2 separate regions of the Homo sapiens genome follow, and region 2 is linked to region 1. The links come from fine-mapping of genetic effects on gene expression. A gene starts in region 1. The other region holds a variant in brackets. All regions are shown on one strand. Distances are between the middles of the regions.

Region 1 (5,363 bases):
GAGGCCCCGGAACCCTCCAGGGGCAGGAACCTCTGCTAAGTACCGCCCAGGGCAGGACCCCACGAAAGGAGACCCAGCTGCCCATAAACACCCAGGAAGAAGCCAGAACACGTTAACAAAAGCACCCGAAGGTCAGAAGGGAGGGCAGGACCCTCCCCCTCCAGTGCCCGCAGCAAGAAAACCCAGCCCCTGCCCCCGACCAATGAGGGGCAGGGTAAGAGGGACCGGGGAGTGGAGGGAACCTGGGGCCTGGGGCCGGTACCCCGCACACTGGCAAAGACAGATACTGGGCCAAACCCACTTCTTTCCCAGAAAGGAGGGCTGGGGGCTGGGGAGGGAGGGACCCCGGAGCTGGGGGTCTCTGGGTTGGAAGGGCCCGGAGATGGGAGTCTGGGCAGGGGTCTAGGGTGGTGGCCTGGTGGCAGGGGATCATAGGATGGGGTGCAGGGGGTAGCAGGGCCCAGGGGAGACAACCTTCTGCAGAGTCCAGGGTCCAGAGCCTGGCAGTGGCGGAGCTGGAGGTGGGTGGTCACTGAAGTGGGAGGTGGCAGGGCCCAGGGGTCTCTGGCTGAGGTGGGGGTCCGGGGCTGGAGGGGCTGTGGATGGTAGTCTATGATCTGGACTGCAGGGCGGGCAGGGGGTATCCCTGGAGGGGAGCAGCATGGTTTGAAGGTCTCTGATCCAGATCATGTGCTGAGCCTGGGGGTCTCCGGTGGGGGTCACTGGGTCTGGAGGCAGCAGGGAGGACGCAGGGAGCAAGGCCTAGGGGTCTTGGCGCACAGGGGTGCGGGTGGGAGTGGCAGGGTCCCTGGATGGTGGGGGAAGAGGGAGGGGTCTTGTGGTCATGGGTGGGGGTGGAGGAAATAGCACGACCCCTGAAGGGAGGGGTCCTGGAGTTCAGGAGTCATAGGTTGGGGGTTACGGACTGAGGTGGTGAGGACTGGGGACGGGGGGTCTCAGGTGAGAGCGGAGAAGTCTCTCCATCCTGGGATGCAGGGGTGACACACTTGAGTGTAGTGGGGTCCCAGGGGGCCCCGGGAGTAGAGAGTGGAAGGGCAGTGGGCAGGGGTGAAGGACCTGGGGAAGGAGGGGTCCTGGAGAGTCCCTGGGTACAGGGACGGAGGGGTCACCAGTAGGGGTCCCAGGGGGAGAGGGGCGGCAGGCAAGGGTGCAGGGCCTGGGGATGGAGGGGTCCTGAGGATCCCCGGGTATAGGGATGGAGGGGTGTGGCATGTGGGGTCATGGGTCCTAGAAACAGTGGGTTGGGGTCCTGGGAATGGAGGAGCAGATAGGGGTACACGTCCCAGGGTTGGAGGGTCACAGGAGTCCCAGGGGTGGTGGGTGGGGGTGCAGGGCCAGGGCATGGAGGGGACCCAGGGATGCAGGCCAGGTGGGGTCCAGGGATGGAGGGGCCTGGGGTGTAGGCAGGGGTTCCAGCCGGAGGTGGAGGGGCCCAGGGATCTGGGGGCAGAGGTGTCTGGGGACCTGGGGTGCAGGGAGGGGTGAGGTCCAGGGATGGAGCGTCCTGGGGATGGAAGAATGGAGGGTCCTAGGGTGCAGGCGGGGGGTGGAGGGCCCTGAGGATGGGGTATTCAGGGTTCTGGGGTGCGGGCTGGGTGGGGTTTGAGGATGGAGGGGCCCAGGGGCTCCAAGTGCAGGCCGAGTTGGAGGGTCCCAGGAACGGAGGGTACCGGAGTGCAGGCTGGGTGGGTCCAGGGACGGAGGAGAGCAGGGGTCCCAGGGGTACAGGGCCTGGGATCCCGGGGAACAGGCTGGGGGCGCAAGCCAGAGGTGGAGGATCCAGGGGGGCCTGGGGATGGAGGGGTGCAGAGGCCCAGAGTGCAGGCCTGGTGGGGTCTGGGGACAGAGAGGTGCAGAGGCAGGGACAGAGGGGTGCAGAGCCCAGGGAACTGGGTGGAGTCTAGGGATGGAAGGGTGCAGGCCCCGGGGTGCAGGCCGGGTCGGTTTCAGGACCGGAGGGGTGCAGGGGTCCCAGGGACAGAGGGGTGCAGGGCCTCAGGTGCAGGCCCCGGGGTGCAGGCCGAGTTGGGTTCGGAGCCTGAGGATGCAGGGGTGCAGGGGTCCCGGGGACAGAGGGGTGCAGGGCTCGGGGATGGAGGGGTGCGGGGGTCTCGGGGACAGAGGGGTGCAGGGCCTCAGGTGCAGGGCCCGGGCAGCAGGCTGGGTGGGTCGGGGCCAGGGCTGGCGGGGTCGGGGCGCCCACCTGTGCGCGGGGATGCGCTGCGAGCTGAGCCCCTTGCCCACCAGGAAGTGCACGTCGCACAGCACCTCGTTGTTGAAGAGGAAGGCGAAGCGCTCCTGCACGGTGGGCTTGCTGGCCTGCCAGTTGTACGCGGCCTCGCGCTGCAGCGCCGCCGCCCCCGGGCCCGCCGCCTCCTCCGCCCGCTCCGCGCCCGCGGCCTGCGCGTCTGTCCCGGGGCCCGGCGGGGCGGGCGGCGTCGGCCCAGGGGCGGCGGCGGCGGCGGCGGCGGCGGCGGCGGCGGCGGCCGCGTTGCCGGGGGCCGGGGTGGCGGCGGCGTTGGCGCTGGGCCCGGGACTGCCCCCCGTGCCCGGGCCGACCCCGACCCCCGGCGGGCACGACGCACGCCCGCCGCTCCCACCCGCCGCCATTTTGTGGCTGCGGCGTGGGCGGGGGAGGGGAGGAGGGAAGGAGGGAGGGGAGGAGGGAAGGAGGGAGGGGAAAGGAGGAGAGTAGGGGGAGGAGGGGGAGGAGGGAGGGGAGGGGAAAAGAGGAGGGAGGGGAAAGGAGGGGAGGAGGGAGGGGAGGGGAAGCGGGAAGGAGGGAGGGGAGGAGAGGGAGGGGAAAGGAGGGGGAAGGAGGGAGGGGAGGAGAGGGAGGGGAAAGGAGGGGGAAGGAGGGAGGGGAGGAGAGGGAGGGGAAAGGAGGGGGAAGGAGGGAGGGGAGGAGAGGGAGGGGAAAGGAGGGGGAAGGAGGGAGGGGAGGAGAGGGAGGGGAAAGGAGGGGAGGTGGGAGGGGAGGAGGGAGGGGAGAAGGGAGGTGAATGGGGGAGGCTGTTGCAGGGGAGGGGACGGGGAGGAGAGGGAAGAGTAGGAGGGGCCTGTAGAGGGGAGGAGCTGGTGGAAGACCTCTTGCTCCACTCCCTAAGCATCCTGACCTGAAGCCCAGACTCCAGACCGAGGTCCAGAATTTGGGGTCCAGGCACCAGGCCCCAGACTCCAGACCGGGAATCCTAAACCCTGGAGCACAGACCTCAGTCCGGGATCCCAGGCCTCAGACCTTGAATCCTAGATCCCAGACTCTGAACCCCAGACTTCAGACTCCGGATTCCAGATCCCATACCTCAGACCCGGAACCCCCAACCCAAAGACCAAGCGCAAACTCCAGACCCCAGACCCCGGACCCAGGTGGCGGGCCTGCTCCGTGGCGCAGGCTCCGCTGTACAGAGACATAGCCTGAGGCCGGGAAGCTGCGGATGAGCGAGCAGGATGCAGGCCACGTGCACTGACACTCAGCAGACGCCCAGCACCCTCTCCAGGCCAGGTGTGGGGGGTGGTCAGTGTGGACGGAGCTGGGACTCCCCCAAAACGCTTACTACATACATAATGTCAAGGTAGACAAATGCCACAAAGATTGAGGAACCAGGTCGGGCGCAGTGGCTCACGCCTGTAATCCCAGCACTTCAGGAGGCCAAGGCGGGGGGTGCATCACCTAAGGTCAAGAGTTGGAGACCAGCCTGGGCAACATGGCAAAACCCTGTCTCTACAAAAAATACAAAAATTAGCCAGGCGCGGTGGCTCACGTCTGTAATCCCAGCACTTTGGGAGGCCGAGGCGGGCGGATCACCAGGTCGGGAGATCGAGACCATCCTGGTGAAACCCCATCATGGTGAAACCCCATCTCTACTAAAAATACGAAAATTAGCCAGGCTTGGTGGCGGGTGCCTGTAATCCCAGCTACTCGGGAGGCTGAGGCAGGAGAATCACTTGAACCTGGGAGGCGGAGGTTGCAGTGAGCCGAGACCGCGCCATTGCACTCCAGCCTGAACAACAAGAACAAAACTCCGTCTCAAACAAACAAACAAACAAACAAAACAAAACAAAAAAAAAACTAGGCGTGGTGGTACGCACCTGTTGTCCCAGCTACTCAGAAGGCTGAGACGGAAGCATCACTTGAGCCTGGAAGGTTGAGCTTTTGATGAGCTATGACTCCACCACTGCCCTCCAGCCTGGGCAACAGAGCAAGATCCTGTCTCGAAAAAAAAAAAAAACAAAGAAGAAAAAGAAAATAGGGTATTAAAAAAACCCAAGTGATAATGCTATTTTCAGTTCTCCAGAGTGGGTGGTTGAGGTAGTTACAATTTTTTTTTCTTTTTTCTTTTTTCTTTTTAGAGTCTCCCTCTATTGCCCAGGCTGGGGTGCAGTGATGGCGATCTTGGCTCACTGCAATCTCAGCCTCCTGGTTCAAGCAATTCTCCCGCCTCAGCCTCCTGAGTAGCTGGGGTTACAGGTACCCGCCACCACGCCTGGCTAAGGCTAATTTTTTTTTGTTTGTTTGTTTTGTTTTTGAGACAGTCTCGTTCTGTCGCCCAGGCTGGAGTGCAGTGGCGCGATCTTGGCTCACTGTAAGCTCCGCCTCCCAGATTCACGCCATTCTCCTGCCTCAGCCTCCCGAGTAGCTGGAACTACAGGCGCCTGCCACCATGCCTGGCTAATTTTATATGTGTGTGTGTGTATGTATATACATATATATATATATATATATATTTTTTTTTTTTTTTTTTTTTTTTTTTGAGACAGTCTTGCTCTGTCGCCCAGGCTGGAGTGCAGTGGCACGATCTCAGCTCACCACAACCTCCGCCTCCCGGATTCAAGCGATTCTCCTGCCTCAGCCTCCTGAGTAGCTGGGATTACATGCACCACCACGCCCGGCTAATTTTGTATTTTTAGTAGAGACGGGGTTTCTCCATGTTGGTCAGGCTGGTCTCGAACTCCCGACCTCAGGTGATCCGCCTGCCTTGGCCTCCCCAAGTGCTGGGATTACAGGCGGGAGCCATCACAGCCGGCCTCTAAATGTCAACTTTCTTATCTCTCATCTCATACATTTGCAAAGTGACATCTTTCCAGCCAAATCCTAAAGAGGACATCTGTGCAGTCCCTTCTAGATGAAGGTGCAGAACAGGCATACCTGCCATGGTGACAGAAATTAACAAAATGGTAGGTTGTCTGAGGAAAGGGTGAACTTTACGGAATGCTGAGATGTTCACGATTTTTTTTTTTTTTTTTTTTTTTTTTTTTTTTGAGATGGAGTCTCGTTCTGCCACCCAGGCCAGAGTGCAGTGGTGCAATCTCGGCTCACTGTAAGCTCTGCCTTCCAGGTTCAT
Region 2 (5,363 bases), 29 kb before region 1:
GCTGTGTTTTCTTTTGGCAGGGTCCAGCGTAACAGCAGCCCAGTGAGACCCTACCAGGGTTTTGTTTTGGAGTGATGACGGCTTCCGTTCTGTCCTCCCCACAGGAGTGTTGCCCTAGCTCCTGGTGGGTGGCCCTTCTGGTGTCTTCATTAGAAGCCCAAGGTGTTTCCTTTTAATATGTATTTTTTTAGAGATGGGGTCTTGCTGTGTTGCCCAGGCTGGTCTCAAACTCCTGGCCCCTAGCAGTTCTGCCTCAGCCTGCCAAAGTGCTGGGATTGCAGGTGTGAGCCAGCACGCCCGGCCCCCAGGGTGTTCGACAAGGCCCCCTACCCCGCCAGCCTCCATCTCCATTGCCTGCTCCCAGCACTGCGCACTGTGGAGATCTGCTCAGCCTTCAGCCTCCTGGCAACTGTTTGCGGCTGGCTTTTTTTTTTTTAGACGGAGTCTTGCTTTCTCGCCCAGGCTGGAGTGCAATGGCACCATCTTGGCTCACTGCAACCTCCATCTCCCAGGTTCAAGCGATTCGCCTGCCTCAGCCTCCCAAGTAGCTGGGATTACAGGTGCCTGCCACCATACCTGGCTAATTTTTGTGTTTTTAGTAGAGATGGGGTTTCACCATGTCGGCCAGGTTGGTCCTGAACTCCTGACCTCAGGTGATCCACCCGCCCGGCCTCCCAAGGTGCTGTAATGACGTGTGAGCCACCACGCGGCCTTGCTGCCGGGTTTCTTGATGTCTTGCCCTGCACGTGTGCTCCTGAGGCAGCAGCCAACGGCTTGACTTCTCTGGCCACTGAGGCCACAACTGGGCACTCCCTGCTTTCTCTCCATCTCTCACATCCACGGTCCCCCAGCAGCCAGCAGGGCCTCCCCACGGGGAAATCGGCACACACGTCCATTGCATTTGGGTTTGGGGGGAGGTGTTGAGTTAGTTAGGGTCTTGCTCTTGCCCAGGGGGGAGGGCAGTGGTGCATCACTGCTCACTGCAGTCTCGACCTCCCGGGCTTCAGTGTGGCCTGTGGGTACTTAAGGAGGGTCTCGCAGCACTGGCGACCAGACCCGGGGTTCAGGGCCCCTCTCGGCGCACGACATCCCTCGCCCACTGCAGCCCGGATGACAGGGCAGAGAGTGAAGGGGAGCAAAGCAGTGTGCGCTCAAGGCAGGTGCATTTGTTTCTTTATTTAAAAAAATCATCTGGGGGCATGGTCTGAGGAGGACACCCCTCCCATGGCTTTGGGGAGGACGCAGGTTCCAGGAGTCACAGGGCAGAAACACGCGGGGTGGGTGGGGGCGTGGCCGGAGTGGGGAGGGGCTGTGCCCCCAGCACCTGGGGGTGGCTCCCACGGCACCAGGTGGGCTAGGGCAACAGTATGTACAGGCGAGCAGTGCTCCTGGACCCGGTCGGGGCCGGCTGGGGCCCCATTCTGCGGCAGGGGAGCTCTGGGGCACAGGGTCTGAGTCCCATCTTGGGCTGCAGGGACCGCGAGGGCCGTCCAGGGAGGCTGGACAGCGGGGGCCTTTATCTGGGCCCATCAGGTGGATGAGAACGGACACTGCAAACCGCTCACCACCTGGGCCAGGGCTAGGCCTATCCGGCAGGGGCCGTCCCCACACTGAATCCTGCGTGCGCAGAACTCAAGCCGGCATCCAGGCAGTGGGAACGCCCCGCAGGCTGGGCTTGGGTGGCCTCGGGCACGTGACAGGTGGGGCCCGTGTCCTGATAAACGGACAGGAACAAAAGGAACGCAAGGTCTGGGACCCACGGCTCTGGGAGCAGCGCCACCCAGGCTGGCTCCTAGCAGAGAAATGGGAATCGCAAATGCATTGCAATGTGCAGTGAAGAGACGCGAGGGACGCCCGCGGCGCACCGCCGGCAGACGACGTGGGCAGGCGCCCTGAGCTGCGGGTCCGTGGGCCCTGGCCCAGGCCGGCACAGCCCTGTCCCTAGTCCTGAGGGATTGTCTCCACAGGGCCTGGCCACTGGCCTGGCCACCTCCCCGGCTGCCCTGATCCAGCAGCCACACTCGTGGTGAACACAGGGCAACCCCGTCCTGATGCTGAGAAAGGTGGCATGGAGTGGACAGACGGCCTGGGGGACACTGGGCCTGGCACCGCGTGGTGGGGGGGCCCCAGCAGCAGATGATGGCCTGGGGCTGCGGCTATCCCCACGGAGGGAGGGCGGTGTCGGTGTCGGGCAGCCTAGGTGTAGAAGATGACCTCGGGGATCTGGCC[G/A]TCCTCCACGGATGTGCCATTGTTGTTCCCGGCCGCGTAGCAAAAGGTGAAGCAGGTCTTGGCGCCCGTGGTGGGCGACTCGTGTGTCACCTTGCGCAGGCCTTTGGTGCCGTAGTGGGAGTCTGGGCCCTGTAGGGAATAGGGGTACAGTGAGGTCAAGGACCACCAGGCTGGGATGCCCCAGGTGTGGACAGGGCAAGGCCCCGACTGGGCCAGGGTGGCTGCCTCTGGAGAGTGTGTGCTGTGCCCCGGTGGCTTCAGGATGGGCCAGAGACTCCCACGGAGGGACCCCTGTCCCCGGCGGCGCACCTTGAGCGTGGCACAGGCCGTGTAGTTGACGTTGGGCAGCACCTCCACCGGCTCCTTGAACATGACGCGGAAGGTGCTGGCTGAGCCGTCGCAGCTGAAGCCCGTGTCGTTCTGGCCCAAGACGGTGTTGCTATCGGTGTGAATAATCTGCGGGGAGGTGGGAAGTGGGAGGCTCAGGCCTGGGGAGGGCCAACGGGGACCCCTCGAGGCCCAGCCCACCTGCCCAGGGTGGGGGCAGCACAGGGACCAGGGCCGGGGGTTCAGCCAGGGTTCCATGGAGGTGGAGAGAGGACATGGGCCTGAGTGGGGCCTGGGGATGAGGCTTGGGGCTGGTACCTGGATGTTCACTTGGTAGTCGGTGGGCCCGTGGATGGATCCATACAGCCCAAATCCCACCACGAAGATGCGCTTGTTGACTGAGAACCTGCCGTGGCAGATGACAGGCAGCAGCGTGGATACCCAGGGATAGCCTAAGGTGAGCTGGGGCGAGCCCACCCCCATGCCCGGTCCCCTCCATCGTCCCTGAGTCCTCCACCCCCATGCCCGGCGGCCCCCCCGCCGTCTTCATCATCCCTGAGTTCTCCACCCCCATGCCCGGCCCCCCATCTCCGTCATCCCCGAGTCCTCCACCCCCATGTCCGGACCCCCCCGCCTGCACCCCAAGCCCCACCTGATGCGGTCACTGGTCCCGCTGTAGCCCCAGCGACTCTCCACCTGCTGGAAGCGGTTGATGCTGCACTCCTTCCCACGCAGGCAGCAGCGGGGCCGGTCAATGAACTCCACTCGTGGCTTGGGGTTGACGGTGAAGTGCAGGAAGAGGCTGACCACCTCGCGGTCCACCAGGATGCCCGACTGTGCGGGACCTGCAGCACAGGGAGGGTGTGGGGGAGGGCCGGGCTGCACCCCAGGATCCCGAGTGCCTGGGAGGACACGCTCCTTCCCCCTAAGATGTCTGCGTCGGACTTTCAAGGTGCAGGGACCTGGGCAGCCCCTCCCCGGGGGACTAGCCACCAGCCATGGCCCCTGCTGCCTGGGCTTTTAGGGAGAGGTCCCAGGGCACAGACCAGAGGCCGACAGATACGCTCACTCAGGGGCGATGCCTCAGGGTCTGACAGATGCACTCACTCAGGGGTGATGTCTCAGGGTCTGGCCCCACTGTAGGGACCACCCGTCACTTCACTGTGGGTGGGGGCGGGGGGCTCCACTGCCTGTTCTCTCAGGGCCATTGGCTGGGAGGGGTCACTGTGGCTCCCTGCTAGGCCTGTACCCCCCAGGCTGCAGCCCTGGCTTCTAGAAGCAGTCTGGGGGTTCCTCTCCACGGTGGGCCCTAGGCAGACACCTTCTCAAGCGCTTACACCCCCAGGGGTGATGGCTAGCGGACCCCAGGCAGACTCCAAGAGCCAGGCTCTTAATCCCGGTGCAGAGATGTCACAGGCAGAGGGACTGTGCATGGGATGTGAAGGGGCTCTGGGTAGGGAGGGGAGGCCAGGAGGGGCAGAATTGGGGGTCCACCATCCACCCCCAGGAGTGCCAGGACACAGCACCCTCTGCTCTAATGAGAGCAGCCCTGCCTGCCTGAGACCTAATCACTCATCAACCAAGGTGGGCTCAACTCCGCATCGCTCAGCTGCAAGCCAGCCCAGTGCAGACACAGTTTAATAACTGGTGAGAAACAGACCATTATGGGTTAAGTGAATCAGGAAGACTGAGTATCAAAACTCAATAAACAATGTTAACAATTTTTTTTTTTTTTGAGACGGAGTTTCGCTCTTGTCCCCCAGGCTAGAGTGCAGGACGGAGTTTCGCTCTTGTCCCCCAGGCTAGAGTGCAGTGGCGTAATCTCGGCTCACCGCAACATCCGTCTCCAGGGTTCAAGCAATTCTCCTGCCTCAGCCTCCAGCATAGCTGGGTTTACAGGCATGCGCCACCATGCCCAGCTAATCTTGTATTTTTAGTAGAGACGGGGTTTCACCCTGTTGGTCAGGCTGGTCTCAAACTCCTGACCTCAAGTGATTCCCCCCATCTTGGGCCTCCCAAAGTGCTGGGATTACAGGAGTGAGTGACCCAGCCTGGCCAACAATTGTATATATTTTTTTATTTTAAATGGAGTTTCACTCTTGTTGCCCAGGCTGGAGTGCAGTGGCGCGATCTCGGCTCATCACAACCTCCACCTCCTGGGTTCAAGTGATTCTCCTGCCTCAGCCTCCCGGGTAGCTGGGATTACAGGCATGAGCCACCACACCCAGCTGATCAACAGTTGTATTTTTAAGAAGTATGTATCTAGCCAGGCTCGGTGGCCCATGTCCATAATCCCAGCACTTTGTGAGGCCGAGATGGGAGGATGGCTGGAGCCCAGTTCATGACCAGCCCAGGTGACATAGCAAGACCCTGTCCCCACAAAAAAATACAAATATAAGCCTTGTGTGGTGGTGGCACCTGTGATCCCAGCTACTCCGGAGTCTGAAGCAGGAGGATCACTTGAGCCCAGGAGGTCGAGGCTGCAGTGAGCTGTGATTGTACCACCGCACTCAGCCTGGGCGACAGAGACCCTCTTGCTAAATCTGGCGACCTTCAGCTAAGCAAGAGCGGGGGCCGCGTGGACCTGGGGAAGGCCAGACGGCGAGTGTGCACCAGCCCCAGGGCTCTGTCCCAGCCCCTTCTGGAAAGTTCCAGGCCTGTTTTGCTCCAGAGCTGGATGGCGTCAGGCAGTGAGCAGCCACGAGGGCAGGAGGCATCGTTAGCGCTGCCCCTTCACGTCACCCTGGAACCCAGGCCCTGCAGCAGGGGACCCCAAGGCCCACTCGGGCGCATGACAGCCACCCCGG

The links. PIP is the estimated chance that this variant, and not a neighbour inherited with it, causes the effect.
Region 2: its variant is fine-mapped to the expression of BTBD2 in visceral fat (GTEx, PIP above 0.99). The same link has a PIP of 0.9 or more in atrial appendage and uterus.

What each region holds. Positions count from the first base shown.
Region 1 is chr19:2,013,073-2,018,435 of GRCh38, forward strand. BTBD2 (BTB domain containing 2) reads right to left here and starts at 2,642. Exons shown (of 9, transcript NM_017797.4): 1 at 2,225-2,642. The coding sequence starts at 2,631. LOC107985278 (a long non-coding RNA gene) reads right to left here. Exons shown (of 4, transcript XR_001753845.2): 3 at 4,111-4,228; 4 at 3,273-4,022. RefSeq lists silencers at 2,239-2,288, 2,299-2,448.
Region 2 is chr19:1,984,292-1,989,654 of GRCh38, forward strand. It overlaps BTBD2 (BTB domain containing 2), which reads right to left. Exons shown (of 9, transcript NM_017797.4): 6 at 3,209-3,401; 7 at 2,875-2,962; 8 at 2,539-2,685; 9 at 1,157-2,358. The coding sequence ends at 2,197. It overlaps LOC124904610 (a long non-coding RNA gene), which reads left to right and starts at 3,401. Exons shown (of 2, transcript XR_007067086.1): 1 at 3,401-4,203; 2 at 4,667-5,363. The variant G/A (reference allele first, on the strand shown) is at 2,230.